Regions from separate parts of the Homo sapiens genome. Here region 2 is linked to region 1. The links come from fine-mapping of genetic effects on gene expression. Tissue or cell type: putamen. Region 1 holds a variant in brackets; the other region holds the start of a gene. All regions are shown on one strand. Distances are from middle to middle.

The links. PIP is the estimated chance that this variant, and not a neighbour inherited with it, causes the effect.
Region 2: SEPTIN10 starts here. The variant in region 1 is fine-mapped to the expression of SEPTIN10 in putamen (GTEx, PIP 0.98).

The regions. Positions count from the first base shown.
Region 1 is chr2:109,665,015-109,675,883 of GRCh38, reverse strand. It overlaps a transcript of RANBP2 not described here and the pseudogene BMS1P19. Among named protein-coding and RNA genes, the nearest start is that of SOWAHC, 56 kb to the right of the region's middle. RefSeq lists an enhancer at 4,280-4,780. The variant G/A (reference allele first, on the strand shown) is at 5,443.
Region 2 is chr2:109,609,068-109,619,936 of GRCh38, reverse strand. SEPTIN10 (septin 10) reads left to right here and starts at 5,971. Exons shown (of 11, transcript NM_144710.5): 1 at 5,971-6,139. The coding sequence starts at 6,110. It overlaps SOWAHC (sosondowah ankyrin repeat domain family member C), which reads right to left and starts at 5,573. Exons shown (of 1, transcript NM_023016.4): 1 at 947-5,573. The coding sequence starts at 5,447. The coding sequence ends at 3,870. It also overlaps a transcript of RANBP2 not described here. RefSeq lists silencers at 5,520-5,689, 5,950-6,199, 6,230-6,319 and an enhancer at 6,172-7,081.

The DNA.
Region 1 (10,869 bases):
CAGACACACCCTGGGGTGGGGACAGGAGTGTGCTTTAGGGCCGGGGCCGCCTGGAGTTGTTCTGCTCCACAGTTGTCAAACAGACCCACCCTCAGCAGAGTGGCAGGACGAGAAAGGCAAAGGAAGGAAGGAGGCCTGGGCTACAACTGAGGTTGCCACGGTTTCTTTTTTTCTTTGTCTTTTGCTTTTTTCTTATTTTTTGAGACAGAGTTTCACTCTTATTGCCCAGGCTGGAGTGCAATGGTGGGATCTCAGCTCACTGCAACCTCCGCCTCCTGGGTTCAAGAGATTCTCCTGCCTCAGCCTCCCAAGTAGCTGGGATTACAGGCGCCTGCTACCACACCCAGCTAATTTTTGTACTTTTAGTAGAGACGGGGTTTCACTATGTTGGCCAGGCTGGTCTCCAACTCCTGACCTCAGACCATCCACTTGCCTCAGCCTCCCAAAGTGCTGGGATTACAAGCATGAGCCACCGCACCTGGCCAGTTGCCATAGTTTCCATCTCTGCTAAGGGTTTGCCCTCTGCCTCTGCGGATTCGATTCAGAAAGTGGTGCTGTTAGTATACCAGGAAGAACTTGCCTGTGAGCCTGGTCTGAGAACTTTGCACTTTGCCAAGCTGTCCTTCGAGTATAACGGTGATAGACAAACATTCTTCAAGATCAGACAGAGGGACACAGCACCCAGGGCCCTTTAAAAATGTAGTTGAACATAGTGAGATCCTGTCTCTACAAAAAGTAAAAATACAAAATTAGCTGGGCATGGTGGCACATGCCTGTGGTCGAGCTTACTGGGAGGCTGAGGTGGGAGGATCCTTGAGTCCAGGAGTTCAAAGCTGCAGTGAGCTATGATTGCACCATTGCACTCCAGCCTCGGTGACAGAGAGAAACCCTGTCTCTAAAAGAAAAAAAGTAGCTGAAAATGAAGTCTGGCCAACTAAGAGATGAAGCAAAATAAGACATGAAGTGAGGGAGAAGCCATGGGGAAAAGACTGGAAAGAGAGATGACTCCATGTAAGCAAATAGTTAAAGCTACACTATGGAAGAAATTATGGTTTCAGAATAAAATGTAAATCTTGACAGGAGAAAGCTAGCAAACTCAGGGGGCTGAGGAGAGGAGGGAAGAGGAAATGTAAGAATGTCAATTTCCTTATTCATAACAAGGAGTTAGTAGATACTGCCTGTAATTGAAACACATAAAATCATTACTACTTATTAATATTTTTCATAAACCCTTTCCTTAATTTTAGCAGGTTATTTTAGAAACTAATATTTTTTTTCTTTTTTCTTGTTTTTGTTGTTTTGACATGGGGTCTCATTCTGTCGCCAAGGCTGGAGTGCAGCAGTGCAATCATAGCTCACTACAGCCTCACAACCTTCTGGGCTCAAGCAATCCCGCCTCAGCCTCCCAAGTAGCTGGGACTACAGGTACATGCCATCATGCTCGGTTAATTTTTTTTTTTTTTTTTTTTTTTTGGAGACACAAGGTCTTGCCATGTTTCCCGGGCCGGTCATGAACTACTGAGCTCAAGCGATCTTCATGCCTCACCCTCCCAAGTACCTGGGACCGCTAGTATATTTTGTGATGAGGAAATATTTTTCTGAAATTCAGCAGTTTCTACCATTTTACTTCATTTTGGGGGGGGGTTGTTAAATTCAAGCACAATTATCTTCAACATTTATTGTTTAAAATAGGATGTAGGCACTAAGCATAAAATAAGAAGCTGGCATCAAGAAACAACATTAAAGGAGTGCTGGGGAGGCCAATAGGATGTGAAAGGTATTTGCAACATAATACTAACAAACCAATGAGAAAAAGGTGAACCTACCCAGTAGAAATAAATTGGGTGAAAGACTTGAACAGGCACTTCACAAAACAGATAGTATCTCAGCTGCCCAATAAATACATGGAAAGGTGCTCAACCTCATTAGTCTTCAGAAAAATGCAAATTAAAACCACTAGAAGCTATGGCATCACACTCAGAATAGCCAAAATGAAGGGGGAAAAAACCTGAAAATATCAAATATAGACAATGGAGATCCCTGGAGCTCTCATACATTGTTGATAACAGGGTAAATGGGTATAGCTATCTGGGAAAACTGTTTGTTCCCCTCCCCACCTCCCCTCCCTCTCTCTTTCTCCTTCTTCCAACCACCACCTTGCCCAGCTAATTTTTGTATTTTTAGTAGAGATGGGGTTTTGCCATGTTGGCCAGGCTCGTCTCGAACTCCTGACCTCAGGTGATCCACCTGCCTTGGCCTCCCAAAGTGCTGGGACTACAGGCATGAGCCACTGCACCCAGCCCACATCCACAACTTTCTTTAGCTGTCTCTCCCCTACTAATTTCTGATGCCCACCCAAATCAAAAAGGTCAGGTAAAGCAAGGCAAAACAGAGCAGAGCCTTAGATTTTGAGAGGGACCTGTCTGTTTACAGCTCTTGGGGTTCCATGAGAAAAACAGAGGTTTCTCCCAAAATGGGGTCTGTGGCACCTTCTGTTTTTCCCAAAGCATCCCAGGCTGTCAGAAATTACCTTAGGTCCTCTCATGTGGGCAAAAAGATTGGCAACAAGACCTACTACGGAAATAATTCAGTCAACTGGGAAGAAAAAGAAACACTTAGTACTGTCCCCATTGTAAAGATGGATAAACTGAGGCACCATACAGTTTAAAAATTCATGTTCACATAGAGTTAGGCTCCACAGCTCACTCTTAACCATCCCGTAATTCTGCTGACTCTATGCCCAGTCACCGAGGCACCTGTATGGTAGCTCACGGCCCCCTTAGAGCTTAGAACCTGGATTTCATTCCTGCTCTACAGCTACGTAATTGAACAATTTTCCTCTGAATTTGTTGGATTCTAACTCTATATATCTCAAGTTTTATTATTTCTGAATCTCAAGAGGGGCTGTGATGTCTTTAGTAATATCAAACAACCTATAAACAAAGGACTAAATGAGGTTTAGCAGTATTCAAATTTCTATATGCTTTAAAACATTGAGGCAATGTATTGAGAAACACACCTAAGAAACTGCAACCAATCTACTCTGGACAAAAATTTAGACACTATCTCTATAAAATAAGCTATCTATTGATACTTATGCATATTTGTACATATATCAACAGTATTTACATGTCATAACCTTAAAATAATTTAAAAGTGTCAAAATTACCGGCCTTATAAATTTCTGTAGTCTTGAAAGAAATGATACAATATAGATTACTTGTTTCTTTAAAGTAGTCAATAAAATGCATAAACTTCTAGAGAAATCCCTTAAAAAAACAGTTCATACCGAAGGTAATAATACGTAACACTAGGAATAAAAGAGGGCCCAACACTGCAGGTTCTTAAAGACAACAGTTACTAAAGCCTTGTTTTTGGTTATTAACCTTGGCCTTAAAACAATTATATACATAATCCTCCGCTTCCTTTTCTTGTTGCAAAGATGTGGTGATGAACCAGATTTGCTCATGCAGATGGCAATACTCTTGAAAATGGTGGCAGAGAAATAAAATGAAGGGTATATGGTTCACTCAATGATCTCATAAAGTGGAACTTATTACCCACCCTGCCTCTTGCATATCTCCAGACTAATATGTGAGAGAGATGAAATGGCTGTTTGCTACCAATATTTTATTTGATGCTTCATTTTTTGATTCCTTGAATAACAACTTACAATGCATTAACAGGAAAGCATAGCTATTCAAGGAACTAAATAATTATGCAACTAATTTTTTTCCTCATCTCTAAAACATGGTAATGGACCAATATTTTAAAAATACAACACACTGGTGAGTAGTTTATTTTTAACTCAGTTTTGGTTTGTTGCTTGTTAAGGTCATTGCTTGGGAAAAAGAAAACAAAAGACGAGGAGGAGGAGGAGAAAGTATAGAAACAAGAAATAGAAGCAGGAGCATAAGCGAATGAAGAGGAACTAGATGATGGTGATGAGAAAAAGAAAAAACAGACTGGAAGAAAGTAGGAAAAACAGGTGTGGGAATCAAATGGCCTATAAGATACCTTTTTTCCCCTTCCTGATTCATGAAATTTGAAAAAGTCCAAGACCATCAACAAAAAAACAAGCAAAAAGATAGACACCCCTTAAATTTCATTAAGAGTGAGATAATGCTACACTCATGGCTGGCTCAGGTGCCATACCTTTTTTCCCCTTCCTGATTCATGAAATTTGAAAAAGTCCAAGACCATCAACAAAAAACAATAAAAAAGATACACCCCCTAAATTGTCACCCCTTAAATTTTGCTAAGAGTGAGATAATGCTCCACTCATGCCTGGTTCAGGCACCAGCAGGAGGAGGGCACCCTCCAGATTCTCCAGGAGAAGGGGGAGGACTCCTCCTTGCCCTGGCTGCACCTCCAATGAGGCCCATGGTGCAGCAACCACAGCTTCCTACCTATGCCAGGCCAGCCGAACCCTGAAGCTCCTACTCCCCCTTCCCAGCCCCCAGACTTGCTGCTGCTGCCACCACTGGCACTGATGCCAATACAACCACCACTGCTGTCACCCTCAATGCACCGGCCCTCCCTACAAGGCTCCTACCACATGGCTACTGCCACAGCCCTGCCCCTGCCCTGGCTGCAGCTGGCCACCTCCTACCACTCTGGCATGCTACAGTCTCTGTCACCACCACCAACTCACAGCGAGGCAAGCTGCAGGACCACAGGCTCCAGCCTCCAGCCTCCAATATCCAGCAGGTGGATCCTCCTTCTCCTGGTAGGAAGCAGCAGTGTGGGCAAAGCCAGAAAAACCTAGACCAGGTTGCAGGAAGTGGTAGCGTTACAGCATCACCTTGTCATGCTGTCCACTGGGTGGCAGGGGCCAGTTTCAGCGAAGGCACTCACACCCACCCTCCGAAGTCCAGCCTCTCCTTTTGGCCCAAGCTGGCCAGGCACTGGGGCCTGGGGTGGGGATTGGAGACACCATAGTGCCCAGCTCCCCAAGCCACAGGAACCACTGGGCCCACTGAGGCTGCACTCCTTGGGGAGCAGGAGCAGCAGAAACTCAGACCCAGCCACCCCCAAACCGAAGTGTGGTTGCCATTCCTGATGCCTCCACCCACAGGGCCCTGTCCCCTTGTGATTCCCCCAACTCCATGCCCAGAGATCCCAGGCTGTCTCTGCAACACAGAGGAAGAGGGCACAGGCCCTGGACCCACAGCAGGTGTGGGGGCCCTGCCATGCTCAGGATTCCCATGGAAATGCTATGCACCCCACTGGCTTCGAGCAGCAGCAGCAGAACGAGGTCAGCCTCTAGAGTTTGGAGTCTGGGGAGAGGAGAACAGCCCCTGCCTTGGAGGCCACTGCTGTCACTGCTGCCTCTGCCACCCGCCACTGGCAGTGCAGTCCCTGATAGTGCCCTTAATCCTCATAGCCCCCAATAGTGCCCCCAGCCCAACATCTGCCTCGGGCAGTTGTGCCCAAGTTATC[G/A]CACCCAATCCACTCCCCGATGAGCTGCTGTGGGTACTGCAACCCCAGATAGTATCCCCAACCAGCCCCCCGCCAGGGGCAGTCTGGCCCCCAATAGCACCCCCCAACCAACCCCCACCCCCACCCCCACTCTGCCACAGGCAGTATAGCCCCCAGTAGCATCCCTAACCTGTCCCCCACCATGGGGCATAGGCCTAGAGGTTTTTGTCTCACCCAATCAGAACATGTAGTCCAGGAACCTCATTTGCATATTTTCAGAATGTGAAGGATGCTAAGGGGGCTTCCCACCATTCCAGGCTCTTCTGCAGCTGTAGCCCAGCTACTCTGTGCCTGGCTTAGAGGAGGAAGAGGAGGAACCGTCTGCCGCACCCTGGAGGCTGTAGCCTGTGGCATCGTGGCTCGCCTCACTGCAGTTGCTGGCTGTGACGGAGACTGCAGCATGGCCAGGGTGGTAGAAAGGTGGTGGGGTAGGTGCACTATCAGAGGCTGCACTGCCCGTGGTGGGGGGTCGCTTGGGGGCACCTGATGCCTGCAGCATAGAGTGGGTTGGGGGTGCTATCCAGGGCACGGGGGGTGGGGCGACTGGTTAGGGGTGCTACCTGTGGATGTGCTGCCCATGGCGGGGAGCAGGTTGGGTGCACTATCAAGGTTCTCACCTCCTGTGGCCCTGAGGGAGGGGTCCAGGCCTAGGCTGCTGGCCAGGGAGCCGGTAAAAGAGCCAGAGGCGGTGAGGGTTGTCAGAACCTTGGAGGTTATCTTGAGGCCTTCTCTGGTTTAGATGTATTTTCTCATTCATGAATGTAGGAACATTGCCTGAGAGGTGTTCATAGTGGCCGTTCTGAATTCTAGTTCTAGCAGGGGCTAAGAGAGTTCCAGTAGTTCCATGTGTCTTCTCTCAAAAAATATTTATTCAGATCTTCTGTTCATTTTTAAATCAGATTCTTTTTGGTTTTCTGGAGGTTTTTTGGTATTGAGTTGTTTGAGCTTATTATATATTCTGGTTATGAATCCCTTCAGGGGTGGGGAGTTTGAAAATATTGTTTCTCCTGTGTGTCGTCTCCTTTCTTTGTTGTTTCTTTTGCTGTGCTGAAAGCTTTTTAGGATGACAGAATTTCATTTGTTTGTTTTTGCTTTGGTCGCCTGTGATTTTGAAGTCTTAAACCAAAAACTTTTGCCTAGACCAGTGTCTTGGAGTGTTTCCACAATGTTTTTATTCTAGTAGTTTCATGGTTTCTGGTCTTCAGCATAAGTGTTTAATCCATTTGATTTTATTTTCATGTATGAGGAGAGATAGGAGTCTAGTCTCCTTCTTGTGCATGACGTTTCCCCATTGTATGTATTTTCTTGGTGTCTTTGTCAAAGATGAGTTAGCTGTAAATCTGTGCATGTATATCTGGGTCCTCTATTCCCTTTCATTGATCTATTTGTCTGTTTTCAGGACATGGTCATGCAGATTTGGTTACTGCAGCTTCCTAGTACATTTTGAAGTCAAGTAGTATGATAACTCCAGCTTTATCCTTCCCATTCATGAATGCAAGAACATTGGCTAAGAAGTGTTTATAATGGCCCTTTCTGATTTATAGTCCTAGCAGTGGGCTAGGAGGGTTCCAATTGTTCCATGTGCCTGCTCTCATTTTGTATCTCCCAGTGTCAAATATCTATTTGGTTTCATTTGCTTTGACATTTATTTTCAATATTGTTTGTAATGTTGATAAGCAAAACTGGCCTATAGTCATCAAATTATCTTTAAATTGGATCATTTCCTTCATTTTGCTTTCTGTATGTACATGGTTGCTTTCTTCTCTTTTCTTAGATTGCATTAGAATGTGACACATCCATTCCATCTTCATTTCTCATATGTGCACACTGAAGGCACAGCCTAGAGTCCCACTTTCTCTGGTAGTCCCTCAGCAGCATCGCACAAGTGTTGCCTGTGGGATTTTCATTGTTGTTTCTTTATATAGGTATCATGCCTTCTGTGATGTATTGACTTGAGAATACTTTGTAGTTTTCAGCTTCCCAAGTATATATGCTTTGAGGTGATGATTTTATTGTATTTTTCTAGGATAAACAATTATCCACAATCCACTAACATTCACCCCTAATGAAACCCACTAAGCCAAAACTAACAGGAAAATGTTTTAATTATATTTTTATAGTACAAAATAATTAAACTGAGGCAGGCAGAAAAAAGTAAGAGAATCCACATAACCATAGTTTACATCACTTTAAATCTTGACAGCTCCAGATGCTGAAAATGAACCCGGGTCCTGCAATTGCAGGCTTCATTTCTCCTCTCAAAGGCACAGTCTGTATGATGTGTTCAACAGGAACATCTCTTGGGCTCTCGCCCCCTGACTTGTTATTCACAAGCACCGTGGTGTTTGAAATCATCCATTTCTGCAGATCTATGGCCAGCCTTCCCATTCCAAAGGCTCACTGCAATTGCTCCTCAGCCCTCTTCAGACTGGATTTCTGGCTTCTTCTTTCCCTCTGACCCTGAATTCAGAAGAGCTTCTTCTGAGGTCCTCTTGCTGCTTCAGCTTCTCCTTCTGCTTGAGGAGTGCTTTAAAATGCTCTTTATTCTGCAGGTGCTGCTGCTTCTTGGCCTTCTGCACCCTCTGACTGCACACTGTACTCAGAGCATCCAGCAGTGCAAGGATCTGACAGGGACAAAACCTGGCGAGCATCAGAATACTCTCACAGACACCGCACACTCCCATCCAGGCATGTCAGCTGATGGAATCCAAGATAGAGGCAATCCAGGATCCAAATGAATGTTAACGCCTTGAAAATGCATCCCGAGCTAGGAAATCATTGTTGGCATGGAGATACAGGTGTGAGCACATTTACCTTTACCGCAAAACCACCTCTGTTCATCATTCTATGGGCTCTGTGTGCCACTAACCAGGAGGAAGGGCTCCCCAGCCATGCCTATGACTCCACATTAAAATGCACAGGGCAGAACACGGCCAAGCAAAGGACTGGAAATAGACTCCAGCCCTGCCTCTAACCTATAGTTCTAGTGCCGTGAATAACTCTGGTCTCATCCCCTCCTGATCAAAACTGAGTTACAGTAGAAATGCAAAGTGTGCTGCCAAGAGTGTTATTTTCCTCTCTAAATGGCAGTCAATTGGCCACAGGACCTTCCTTTCATGAGGCTTGCTTATGATGGTTGGTCTCTGCCTGTCCTTCAGCACCTTGCCTGCGTTTGCTTGGGTCTTGGGCTTGTTCTTAAATGGCAAGGCTTTCTGCAAGGCTTTTGGAATGTGCAGTGAATTAAAATGTTTCTTATGCCTCAGGATTGGCTGAAAAGTAAAATAAAACAAAAACTGGGATATATTTAGATTATGATCTATGTGTATTTGAAACCCACAAAACCTTCTCACTGGATTGACTTTTCCATAAGATCAGTAACACTAGAGTCAGCTGACTCTCAGAAATCAGGACTCAGTCATCCATCAAATATGGACTGCCTCAGTGGACACCCACAATTCTAGGCAGAGGAACAAATACAAATAGCTTATACTTGCAACTCTTCCAGAAAACCAACCGTGCCCATTTCTATGGTATAAAACTATGAGGTCTCAACACAGCAGATGCATAGATCCAGTTTCCTCTCATGTTAAATTCAGACCTTGTCTTTGGGCCACTGAGGTGATTATTTTTTTCAGCCTAATGAGTATAATAATCTAGCTTTTCATCTTGACTGTCAACCTCTCTGGATTTAAGGACATAGTTTTTCCTCCAATTAGCAGCCAACATGTCTTCATCTCTGGTTCTAATTAAGAGCTTTAACTTTATTCTGTTTCTGATAGGAGCCTGGCTTTAAAAAGTGAGATTTGAACAACAGACAAGGGCAAACACTGTACATTGAATTTTCAGGTTAATTTAAGTTTTATGTTTCATGAATTAAGATAATCAAAATTCTTAACTGCCTCAGAAACGTTGTTAGTAAGTTGAAAGTTGTGCTCTAGTCTTTTTACCAACGTCAACTATACAGATAATATTTCTCCTATGCCCTTAAATTTATCATTAAGGACATAATTCACAATAATATTCCATATTATCTGTTTAGGAACACATATTGCTTCAGAATTAAAGAATTCAGAGAAATCTCCTTCTCACAAAAAAAGTGGCACCACACGCTGGACAATGGGCACCACATCCTAAGTATGTTTTAATACAAATTCATGTAAGGTGCTCCAAAATTTCATTAACTATTTTATAGAAAAAGCAATGCCTGTGAGACTTCTGTTTCTAGCAGAAATAGATGTATTTATTTTGCAGTAATTTTTTTTTTTTTTTTAGTTTTTTGTTTTGTTTTGTTTTGTGACAGAATCTGTCTCTTTTGCCAGGCTGGAGTGCAATGGCATGATCTTGGCTCACTGCAACCTCCGCTTCCCAGGTTCAAGCAATTCTCCTGCCTCAGCCTCCTGAGTAGCTGGGATTACAGGCACCCACCACCACACCCAGCTAATTTTGTATTTTTAGTAGAGACAGGGTTTCTCCATGTTGGCCAGGCTGGTCTTGAACTCCTGACTTCAGGTGATCTGCCTTCCTCGGCCTTCCAAAGTGCTGGGATAGCAGGCATGAGCCACTGCACCCGGCCTTTCTTAGGTTCTTACTATTTATTTATGACAAATATTTGACATCCATGATTCTCTCCAGTCAAAAGTTCTTTAATACAATCTGTTGGCATTGGCCAATTGGAAAATGGAGTCATGTGACTCACCCATCCTGCGAATGGCCCCGCAGGTAGCATACATTTTAAACTGGCTGTTAAACCTGCCTGCGATCAGGCCAGTTGCGGTGGCTCATGCCTGCTATCCCAGCACTTTGGAAAGCTGAGGCGGGCAGATCACCTGAGGTCAGGAGTTCGAGACAAGCCTGACCAACATGGAGAAACCCTGTCTCTACTAAAAATACAAAATTAGCTGGGCGTCATGGCATGTGCCTGTAATCCCAGCTACTTGGGAGGTTGAGGCAGGAGAATCACTTGAACCCAGAGGTGGAGGTTGTGGTGAGCCAAGATCCCACCATTCCCCTCCAGCCTGGGCAACGAGAGCGAAACTGTTTCAAAAAAAAAAAAAAAAAACCTGCTTGCGACATTATCAACCTTGGTCCCATTCTTCTGGATGGATTCGTGGTCCTTGGCATCAATGATGCAGTTGCTATCGGACCATTTCCACGGCACGTACAGGTCCACGAACTCACCAGCATCATTCTGCATCTCAAAGCCGCACCTGCTGCCACCACATCACGCACAAGCAAAGAAAGACATTTTCTGATAATTATTGCATTTGCAATTTCAATTTGTTCCCAAGCTGGTAGTATGTATGTATGCTGTACTTCCATAAAGGTTTTTTGATAATAAGGTTAAAATTAAAATTTAAAAGTAGAATTGTGATATCTCATTTTGGTATA
Region 2 (10,869 bases), 56 kb after region 1:
ACAAGTTTCTGTAGAGTCATCTTCCAACCCTCTAATATTCAGTGATTTATGAAGACTTGGGTGATCATTGAAGGAATACTGGTTTACAGCAAATTCCAAGTATTTAATCCTGGAATTAATCATGTAAGAAACTCCAAATAATGCTATTTACTTAGCAAAATAAAAATAATTTTTACTAGGAAAATTTCAAAAATATCTTTAAGTGAACTGGTTAATAAATCCTTTTAAGACATGTACTTCTAAGGAAAGAAGTTATTCTAGAAAAACAAACTACTTATCTAGTCTTTCAGTGATCCTGAAAAATATTTTATGGGTTATCATAAAACAAGAATAACCCCAGCAGCCATCACAGTGGGATCTCCCGGATAGAGCAATAGTGGGCGATTACACCAAAGGAGTACCACATCCCTTTGCCATTCAACAGAGTTGAATTTTGCTAAAAATACAGATCACAGGAAGCCTTGATGAGGTAATTAACTCTCAATGCTTCACAGAGGCTGAAAAATGAAAAACGGTATTCCTACACCTGTCTTGAAGTCAGCCCTGGGTAGGGCAGGTTTATGGCAGATGGTGTGTGCAAAACCCATACAGCTTTTTTTTAGGTAGTGGTGGAGGTATTACCTTCTCTCCAAGTTGATTCCTCCATCACTGGTGCCAAACTACAGCAGTTTTGCTAAAAATGTGGCAATTCAATGTGCAGAAAAGATAACGTTGTGGGAAAGCCCTGACTCTTATAATCTTACTAACAGCTTTTTACTGTGTGACCCTGAACAACCATTAACCTCTATTTTCTTATCTGTAAGTCAACAATATATGGCCCATAATCTTAAGGGATAGGAAAAGGGTCAAATAAACTGAAACTTCAAAAAGCATTTTGTGAACTGTAAAACACAGTATATGTAAAAAGTCTAAAGGACGACAGAAACTTAGACAATTCAGAGAAAAATTCTACTGTGAACATTTTATTTTCACAAAACAAACTTTACAGATTTTACAATCTCCCAAATTTCACTTATTTAAAAATAGGAGAGACAAGGCAACCTAGACTCCAAGATTGCAGGCGTGAAAAAACTAGTACCAGATATTCAAGTTATATATGCAAACTGCATTTTATATACCATGAAAGTGAAATGTGACAAACACTCACTAGTTTCAAGTGTACCTTATAAGAAACACATGGACATACTTGGGTTTTTTAACCACATAGTCTCATATCAATAAACATCTAAGTATCTGACATGTATTTTTCCATTAAAGGTAGGCACAACTCTATGAATATCAAATTATATCAATCATTTGCTTTTTATAATCTTGACTGGAAACTGAAAAATAAGAGGAATGTAAAGTTAAGTAGCCGAAAATGCTACTTACTGCACAAAAGCACATCATGAAAAGGAATGCTAGAAGTAGTTCTCCTCAGGAATGGGTTTTTGAAAATTTAAAATATTATTTTATCAGAAAAGTTAAAGCCTTCAGTGGGAAAACCATGGTAAATGACATATTGACTCAATCTCTAAAGCCCTGGCAAATTATAGATTTTGTGCAATTAGTGACCAACATATACATTTAAGAGATAATACTGACTGTTGACCAGAACCTTCTGATGGTTCTGAAGCATCTGCTCTTTAGAGTTACTTCAGCTTTACATGTCTATGAAATTTAAGATTCCTCAATGGGATGTTATAGCTTATTCTGCACTAGATACAAGTAATATGTATAGATTTAGAACAAATGACTACTTTTCACCTTCCAGGAGCCTGTTTTTATTTATACAAAATTAGATTGGTTTTTCACCCACATGTATGCATAAGTGCTTCTCAAATTTACACCGTTCATATCTGAAATCCCACAATAAATGCAAATAAATGGATACTAGTTTATATATTTCATATTTTCATTCATCTTTTTTTTTTTTTTTTTTGAGACAGAGTCTCCGTTGCCCAGGCTGGAGTGCAGTGTCGTGATCTTGGCTCAACTGCAACCTCCACCTCTCAGGTTTAAGTGATTCTCATGCCTCAGCCTCCTAAGTAGCTGGGACTACAGGCACGCACCACCACGCTCGGCTAATTTTTGTATTTTTAGTAGAGACAGGTTTTCACCATGTTGGCCAGGCTGGTTTCAAACTCCTGGCCTCAAGTGATCCACCTGCCTCGGCCTCCCAAAGTGCTGGGATTACAGGCATGAGCCACCATGCCTGGCCTTTCATCCATCTTTAAACAAATTCAATGACCATCTAGAGACAGATGTGACCAAAGTGTTACAAATTTCTATGCATTTTCTATGAATTGCTCTGTGCAGTTCACACATGGGTTCATTCACCCCGCAGGCTGTGAACTTCCTTATCCTGTAGGCTGCAGGTACTTAGGTTTCAGCAACTACGCGACCCAAAAGACTAAAGGAGGACTTGTTTAAATTAGTCCCTCTCAAAAATTGTTTCCAATCTTATAACAAACAGATTTAATATGCTTGTGGGTTAAATTTTAAAGTAGTTATGAAGCCATTTACTCTAATATAAATGAATGAAATGTAATTAAGAACCATACTTAAACGAGTACTTAATTTTAATGAATGGTATTTTTCATTTATATACAAAGGAATAGCCAGCAGCATTTAAATATAGAAATAGTCCCATCTCTTCTCTATTCCCTTTTATAAAGTGCCATTTTAATTGGGTAGATTTACTACCCAGATTTTCAGTAACTACAGGATAGGTATCTAATTGTCAAGAAAAGCTTGGAAAATTAAGTTTAGCATTTTAAACATTTGTAAAACATTGCTACAAGTCATAGAGACTACCAATGTATTAAAATAAAAAGTGTACCTTACATAAGAATCATTAAGTTGGTTTAATAATTACTTCACAGAAACATGGGCTCATGAATACTTAGGCCAATTTGTGCTAATTATTTAAACCAGAAACAGTTTCTGTAGGTAATTCAGCTCTAAGCACCATTAAATAGGGTTATGCCAAATAGAACAATGGTTAAATAATCCTCAGAATAAACACCCCAGCAAATTCAAACTTTTAGAATAGTAACAAAAGTTAGTGAGAATCCGAAAGAGAGGCAACATTTTATTGAAAACTATCATAGGCTGCTAAGTGTTCTCTTTAAATAAAATTTTGTGTAGTTATTAATGTACCTTAACACTGGTGTACCTTAATAGTGGTGTTAGAGATAGGTGGAAACCATACTACAGAAGTGAATGTTGCCTGTTTCTTTTGTTCAGTGATTAAAACTGAAATTGCTTTTAAAAAAATAATTTAACTGCTACTTACAATACACATAAAATACCAAGAAGATTCCCATTTTATTCACATTATTCTCTAATTAGTATTTTTGCATTTCAACTTTGATCTGACCTTCAGTAGTACCTTAAAATGCAAATGCAATTAGTAAAAACGGGGCAGCCTGTCGTTTTCACACTTAGAAATACAATGTAGTTTCATTACAGTTTGCATTTTTTTGTTACTCTTGAAAGAGTAACCCCTTATAAAATCAGATACATAAAAACTGCATTATTCCTTACTTTGCAGGCATCCAGGAATGGTTAAAGCAAAGGAACTCTCATTCATTAATTCATTCATTCTGTTCCCCCAATTTAGATACATTTCTAGTCTCCAGAAACGGACTCCAGGGCAGGGAAGTGGAGGGCAGAGAAGAGGTACAGGTCAAGGTATGATGAATCTCTGAAAAAGACATCCACTTTTCCCAGAAGGCTAGCCTGAAGAGAACTCCGCCCCATCCATTCCGATCCCTCAAGTAAGAATGCATAATTTAGCTTGTCCTTCTGGTCTCACTTCCTTACAACACCTAGTATTCAATTTATTAAGACAAATAAACCTTTGCATTTTCTAAAAGAAGCAATTTTTACCCAAATACATTGGACTTTGGTCTCAATGTGAAGGGCGAGTGGCCTTTAACAGGTCGTTCCTCCCCCACTCCCTCCTCCCCCCTGCCCTCCAGCGGCTGCTCTGGGTCCCTGAAAGAGGGTGTGGTGTGGACGATCTGGGTTCTGAATCGGATTTTGTTGAGTCTGGGTTTTATACGTCCACTAGAGCTGCCCGAGGCTTTGCGCCCTGGATCCTTGGCTTTGCCTCCGACCCACCCCTCAGCCGAGTGGTGATGGTGGTGATGGTCCCCTCCATCTTCTAGGGCGTGTGAGAGTTTGTAGGTGATGAGATGCGAGGGAAGCACCTTTGAAAGCCTCCAGCGCCCGCCGCCGCTACCCGCGGCGCTTTCCCCGTCACCCTCGTCCAGGGCTCCCACCAGGTTCTTGATCTCCTCGGCGATGCTCCGACTCAGGTACTGGGAGGCCTTTTTCCCACTGTAGTCCCTGATGTCCACATCGGCGTCGTAGGCCCCCACCAGCAGCTTCACCACCTCCACGTGGCCGTGCATGGCTGCCAAGTGCAGGGCGGTGTAACCCCCGCTCGTCCTGGCGTCGATGTTCACCGGCAGCTGGTGTTTGTTGGCGAAGTTGACTAGCATGGCCAGAAGCTCCTGCCTGCCGTGCTTGGCGGCCCAGTGCAGGCAAGTGAAGCCGGTAATGAAGTCCCGCTTGACCAGCAGGCCGGGCTCGCAGGTGAGCAAGCCCTCCAGGCTGTCCCACTTGCCATCGGAGGCAGAGAGCATCCACGCGTGCTCCAGGGGGTCCAGCGTCACGGAGCCTCCGCCGCTGCTCTCCTCCTCCGCGGACGACGAGGCCACCGATGCGCTGTCTGAGTCGCCCCCGCCTCTGCCGCGTCCTCCCCCGGAGGAGCTGCCCGGGCTGCTGCCCCCGGGACACACGCTCCTCTTCAGCTGCGGGGAGCTGCCCATCACCAGGTCACGGAGGTTCTGGCGGGCCGGCCTCTGTGCGGTAGCCCCCACAAGGGAGCTGCCCCTGTCCGCCTCCTCGCAGCCATGTGGCGGGAGCTCCAGGTCCTCGCTGGGCCCCGGGGCTGGAGTCCGCGGTAGGGGCTGCACGTCGCGCCGCGAGTTCTTCCTGCGAGCCCCGGCGCTCAGGGGCGGCCAGTGCGCGGGGGCGGGGGGCTCTCCCTCGCCCAGCTCGCGGCCCTGTCCAGGGAGCGACTCCGGGGCCGCCGCGTCGGGGAGCCGATCGCGCGCCTCGGGCCCGGCAGGGCCGTCGGGGGCCTCGGGCTCGGCGGTCACCTGGATTCGCGGCGGGTCCCCGGAGGGCTCGGACGGCCCTTCACAGAACCTCTTCTTGAGGTGCACGTACTTGGCGCCGTCGGCGGGATCGACGCGCACAGTGGCCACGGCGTTCACCAGCTCCTTGAAGTGCGCGCGGGCGCGGGCGCGCTGCTCCGGTTCGCCGCCTAGGGCGCCCCTGAAGTGCTGCACCAGCTCGGCGTGCAGGGCCCGGCCCCCGCGCTCCGCCAGGAAGCGCAGCACCGCCTCGGGGCCCAGCGCCGCCTCGGGGCCCCACTCTGCCGGCCCCTCCATCCTCGACCGCGCTGCTCCCCCGCCAGCGGGCGGCTCAGCGCGGTCCCATAGCGACGGGCTCCCAGCGGCCGGCTCCCGACGGCGGCGGAGTCTGGCGGGCTCAGCGGGCTGCCAGCCTACGCGTCTGAGGCCAGAGGACTCGGCCACCGCCTCACTGGGCCGCGCCCGGGCGGACACGCCCCCCGCACCCCCGCCCCGCGCCCACGCCACCAGGCCACGCCCACTTCCGCTCCCCGCTGTCTCGGCCACACCTACCTAGGGCGGCCTCGCCTCAAGGCCCGCCCACTTCCGGCCTCGCGAGGGCCGCAATCACTGCTCCGCAGTTCCCGCCTGCATTCCTCGCGCCGTCTTCCTGGAGTCCCAGCTCTCCTTCAGCCCGCCCCAACGCTGACGCTCAGTCCTCAGGCGTCGAGGGTAGCTCCTGTGAGGGGCTCGCTTGGCGCAGGCAAAACGCTCAGCGCGCACCACAGGGCGTCCGCCCCAACCCCGCCCCCGGAGGCCTCCAGCTCGGCCCCGCCCCTGTCCCTTCCCCGTCGCGGAGGCAGCCTAGCCTCGCGCCCCGCCCGTTGCTTCTGCCCTCCGGCCTTCCCGCCGCCGTCGCCGGGACCAGCCGCTCGGGGCCGGGCTGATACAGCCGCTTCACCGTGCCCCTGCCCGCGACCATGGCCTCCTCCGAGGTGGCGCGGCACCTGGTGAGTCCCGCCGACGCCGGGGCCCCAGCCCCGCGCTCCCCGGCCCCCGCGGGACTTCCCGCCCTCGACCCACCGGCCCCCTGGTCCGGCCCGGGATTGTGACCCGCGCCCCCTCCGGCCCCGCCCGCCCAGTGCTCCCCGGCTTCCGCGGCGGCCGGGCGCCTGGGGCGGGAGAGGAGCCTCTGCGGAGCCTGGGCGCGGCCGGACCCCGGTTCGCGGGGCGCGGCGCCAGCGTCGGGACGGTGGGAGAGTTCTTGAACGACTTCCCGGTCTTTGCCAAAAGTTACATCCACAGCGGTGTTTGTGGGTCTCTTACGGCTATAACGGAGTTGAAGGCGCAGTGCGGACTGATTGAATAGCGGTCATCTTTTGCAGCCGTGAGCACTTCCGAGCCTCCCTGCCGCCGGGAGAAAGCCCGGCTCCCCTGGCTTTTCAAAAGCTCTCCCGTTTTATCCGATGGTGTGGTCGTCCAAGTTTTCCTCCATTGGGATTTTAAACCGTTTTTTTCCCGCCTTGACTCTTTTGTACTCTAAAAGAACGCGTTTGTTCACTGTTTTGAACCTTTCCAGTTACTTTTGTAGATTTATCTCGCTTGTTAGTAAGCCAGCGGTTTTCCAAGTGTGGTTACAACTATTTTCGTTAATAGTACCAAGGTCGTGTACATCGAGTTTTCCAAAGGCTACATGGTATGGAGTGATCTCACCGCCGTTTGGAGGCCCGATGCCTGTGTATTCTTAAAAACAAATTCTCCCTTTTAATTTTTGATAGTAAACATTGGTGGTTTTCATCTGTGTAAACAAAAGCTCTTTGGAGGCTGGAGACCAAAAAGTTTGAGAACCACTCTACTAAGCAACCTCCTACATGAGAAGTTTAAATTGTAGAAACAGTTCAGATTGCAGGCTGAGAGATTAGAGGATCCGTCCAAAGTGACACCGTTGGTTTGTTTTATAGAACCTGGACAAAGATTTTTCTCCCTGATTCAGCCCAGGTCTCTTTTCATTCTATCGCGTATTTTTTAAAAATCTCAAATTTTCTGTCTGGACCCCCTTGTCTCAGTTGCTGTGTTTGTGTGCATGTGTGAGTGAGGGAAAATTGAGGGGTCCTGGTGAGGAAAATGTGTTTTATAAATTCTTTGATTCATAGATTACGTATCCAAACAAGCTTGAGCAGAAGAGAACACTTCATTTAGCTGATGTTAGATTTATTTTTAATTGTACTTAATTTGCTTTGAGGCTAACTTTACTTATTTTCGAATTAAACTGTATTTTGCGTTAATTGTAGATTAATATGCAGTTGTAAGAAATAATACAGTATAGTGAGAACCCTGTACCCTTTATCCACCTTTCCACAATAAGATCTGGCAAACCCATAGTACGATATCACAACCAGCATATTGTCATTGATTGATACAGTGAAGATAAAGGATGTTCCCAGGACCAGGAGGATCCCTTAATGCCTTTTTATAACCACACACACTTCTTTCCTGCCCTGCCTCCTTCTTAACCCCAGACAATCAGTGATTCGTTTTTATTCTTATAATTTTGTCATTCCAAGACTTATATAATGGAATCACCCAGTTAGTAACCTTTTGAGATTGGATTTTTTTTTTTTCAACTCAGCAAAGTTCTGGAGATTCATCCAGGTTGTTGCATATATCTGCAGTTTGCTGGGGTAGTATTCCATGGTATGATTGTGCCACAGTTTGAAGGATATCTAGGTTGTTTTCAGTTGTTGGCTATTGGCAATAAAGCTGCTATAAACATTCATGTACAGTAACTCATAATGTAAGCATAAGTCTTCAGTTCTTTGGGATAGATGCCCAGGAATACAATTGTTGGGTCATATGGTAGTTGCATGCTTAGTTTTGTAAGAAACTGCCAGACTTTCTCAGAATGGCTGTATTATTTTGCATCCCTACCAGGAAAGTATGAGAGGTCCAGTTTCTGCACATCCTTACCAGCATTTGGTGGTGTCCTTATTTTTAATTTAGCCATTCTTATAGGTATATAGTGACACCTCATGGTGATTTTAACTTGGATTTCTCGTATTGTCACCCAGGCTAGAGTGCAGTGGTGCCAAGATGGCTCACTTCAACCTCAGCCTCAATCTCCTGGGCTCAAGCGATCCTCCTGCCTCAGCCACCCCAAGTAGCTAGGACTATAGGTGTGCACCACCACAGCCGGCTAAATTTTTGTATTTTTTGTAGAGGCAGGGGTGTGACCATGTTGCCCAGGCTGGTCTCAAACTCCTGGGCTCAAGCGATCCTCCCGTCTCAGCCTCCCAACATGTTGCCTATTTTCTAGTTAGATTTTTTTTTTCTGTTGGGTTTAAAGTTTTTTAGGTATACTAGATTCCAGTCCTTTCTCAGATATGTGATTTGAAAATGTTCTCTTTCAGTCTGTAGTTTATCTTTTCATCTTCTAACAGGGTCTTTTGCAAAGCAAAAGTTTTCAGTTTTGTTGAAATTTATCATTATTTCCTTTTATGGATTGTGCTTTTGGTGTCAAGTTTAAGAACTCTTTGCCTAACCTTAGATCCCAAAGATTTTCTCTTATTTTTTTCCTAAAAGTTTTATAGTTTATGTTTTACATTTATGTTATGACCCATTTTGAGTTAATTTTTCTGTTAGGTGTCAGACTTAAGTTGAGGGCCATTTTTTGGCCTATGGATGTCCAGTTGCTCCAGCACCATTTGTTGAATAGGCTCCCTTTCCATTATTGAGTTGTTGATGCACTTTTGTCAAAAGTCAGTTGAGCATATTTGTGTGGGTCTGTTTCAGTCTGTTTCTGGGTTCTCCGTTAGCACGCAGTCTTGATTCCTGTAGCTGTGTAAGTCTGAAATAAGGTAGACTGATTTCTCCCACTTTATTCTTCTCTCCCCCAGATTTTTAGCTATTCTAGTTCTGTGCCTCTCTGTGTAAGTTTTAGAATCGTCTTATCTATATTTACAAATAATTTTGCTGGGATTCGAGAGGAATTACATTAAATGTTTATATCGATTTAGGGAGAATTGATAGCTTTACTATGTTGAGTCTTCTAACTCATGTACATAGTATTTCTCTTCATTTCTCTCTTTTTTTTTGAAGACGGAATGTCGCTTTGTCACCCAGGCTGGAGTTCAATAGCATGATCTCAGCTCACCGCAGCCTCCACCTCCCTGGTTCAAGCGATTCTCCTACCCCAGCCTCCTGAGTAGTTGGGATTACAGGCATGTGCCACCACGCCCGGCTAATTTTTTGTATTTTTAGTAGACACAGGGTTTCTCCATGTTGGTCAAGCTGGTCTTGAACTCCCAACCTCAGGTGATCCACCCGTCTCAGTCTCCCGAAGTGTTGGGATTACAGGCGTGAGCCACCATGCCCGGCCCAGACCTTTTTTTTAATAGAAGAGGATATTAAAATTCAGGGAAGTGGCTGGGCGCAGTGGCTCACACCTGTAATCCCAGCACTTTGGGAGGCCCAGATGGATGGATCATGAGGTCAAGAGATTGAGACCATCCTGGCCAACACCGTAAAACCCCATCTCTGCTAAAAATACAGGAAATTAGCTGGGCTTGGTGGCATGCGCCTGTAGTCCCAACTACTTGGGAGGCTGAGGCAGGAGGATCACTTGAACCTGAGAGGTGGAGGTTGCAGTAAGCTGAGATCGCGCCACTGCACTCCAGCCTGGCGACAGAGTGAGACTCTGTCTAAAAAAAAAAAAACACCTCAGGGAAGTTTAGTGTCTCGCTTAAGGAATCACAGCTAGTGATTGTGAGATCTGCTCTGTGTCATATTGTCCCTGCCATTATCTCCACCATGCTCCTTATTAGGAATTGCATCATTTTATGATTCAGGAGATCCTGGCTGTATAATTAGTTATTGTTGACTGAGATAGTGGATCTTGAAATAGTGTTGAGTACAGTCCACTGACTGCCTTTTCATCTCCCGAGAAACACAGCCATAATTTTCCACTTCTTCAGTTATCCTTACCTTTTAAGTGGTGACCAAATCTTTGCAATTCCTGTCCGCATTTGTCATTTCCTGTTTTAGCTACAATGCTTCTGAACTTTTTTTCTCATTCCTTCTCAGTTTTTCTTCAGTGAGGATAATTTTCGTATCTAAGAGGCTTCTCATTTGTTTTACTTTCTGTCTTGAAGTTGTGATTCTTAATTCTTTCTTGATCTTTTTTTTTTTTTTTTTTTGAGGCGGAGTCTTGCTCTGTCACCCAGGCTAGAGTGCAGTGGCGCGATCTCGGCAGTGAAAAGACTCAGTTCCCATGCTGCTTCCTCTGAAGCTTTCCCAGAGAACCCCAGCCCCTGGCAGCCAGGCTGCTTCTCATTTGGTATTTGGTCATATGCTACCTTGCAGTACCTCCTAATTTATGTTTTTGTATTGTTAACCTTTTGCATCAAGTAAACTCTGCATTTTTTTCGTCCTTAATTAAATGATCTGTTTTCTGGAAGAGCAACCTGTATTATTCTTTGTATCCTCCATAGCCATACTCATATATCTTTGAGGACAGGCATTATTTTTTTATATGGAAAGTATGTTATCTTGGACAATTTTATTCTTGCTGAATGTTAAATGAATAAATTATAAATGCTTGCAGGCAGCCAGGAGCTGTTTGTTCATCTACACTTATGTTCTAATGAAGCCCCACTTTCCCTAGGCTGAAACACTGATAGTGTCATACTTTTCAGATAGTCCCAGACCGATTTTCATTATAACATAGTGCCAGGTTATGTTTGGA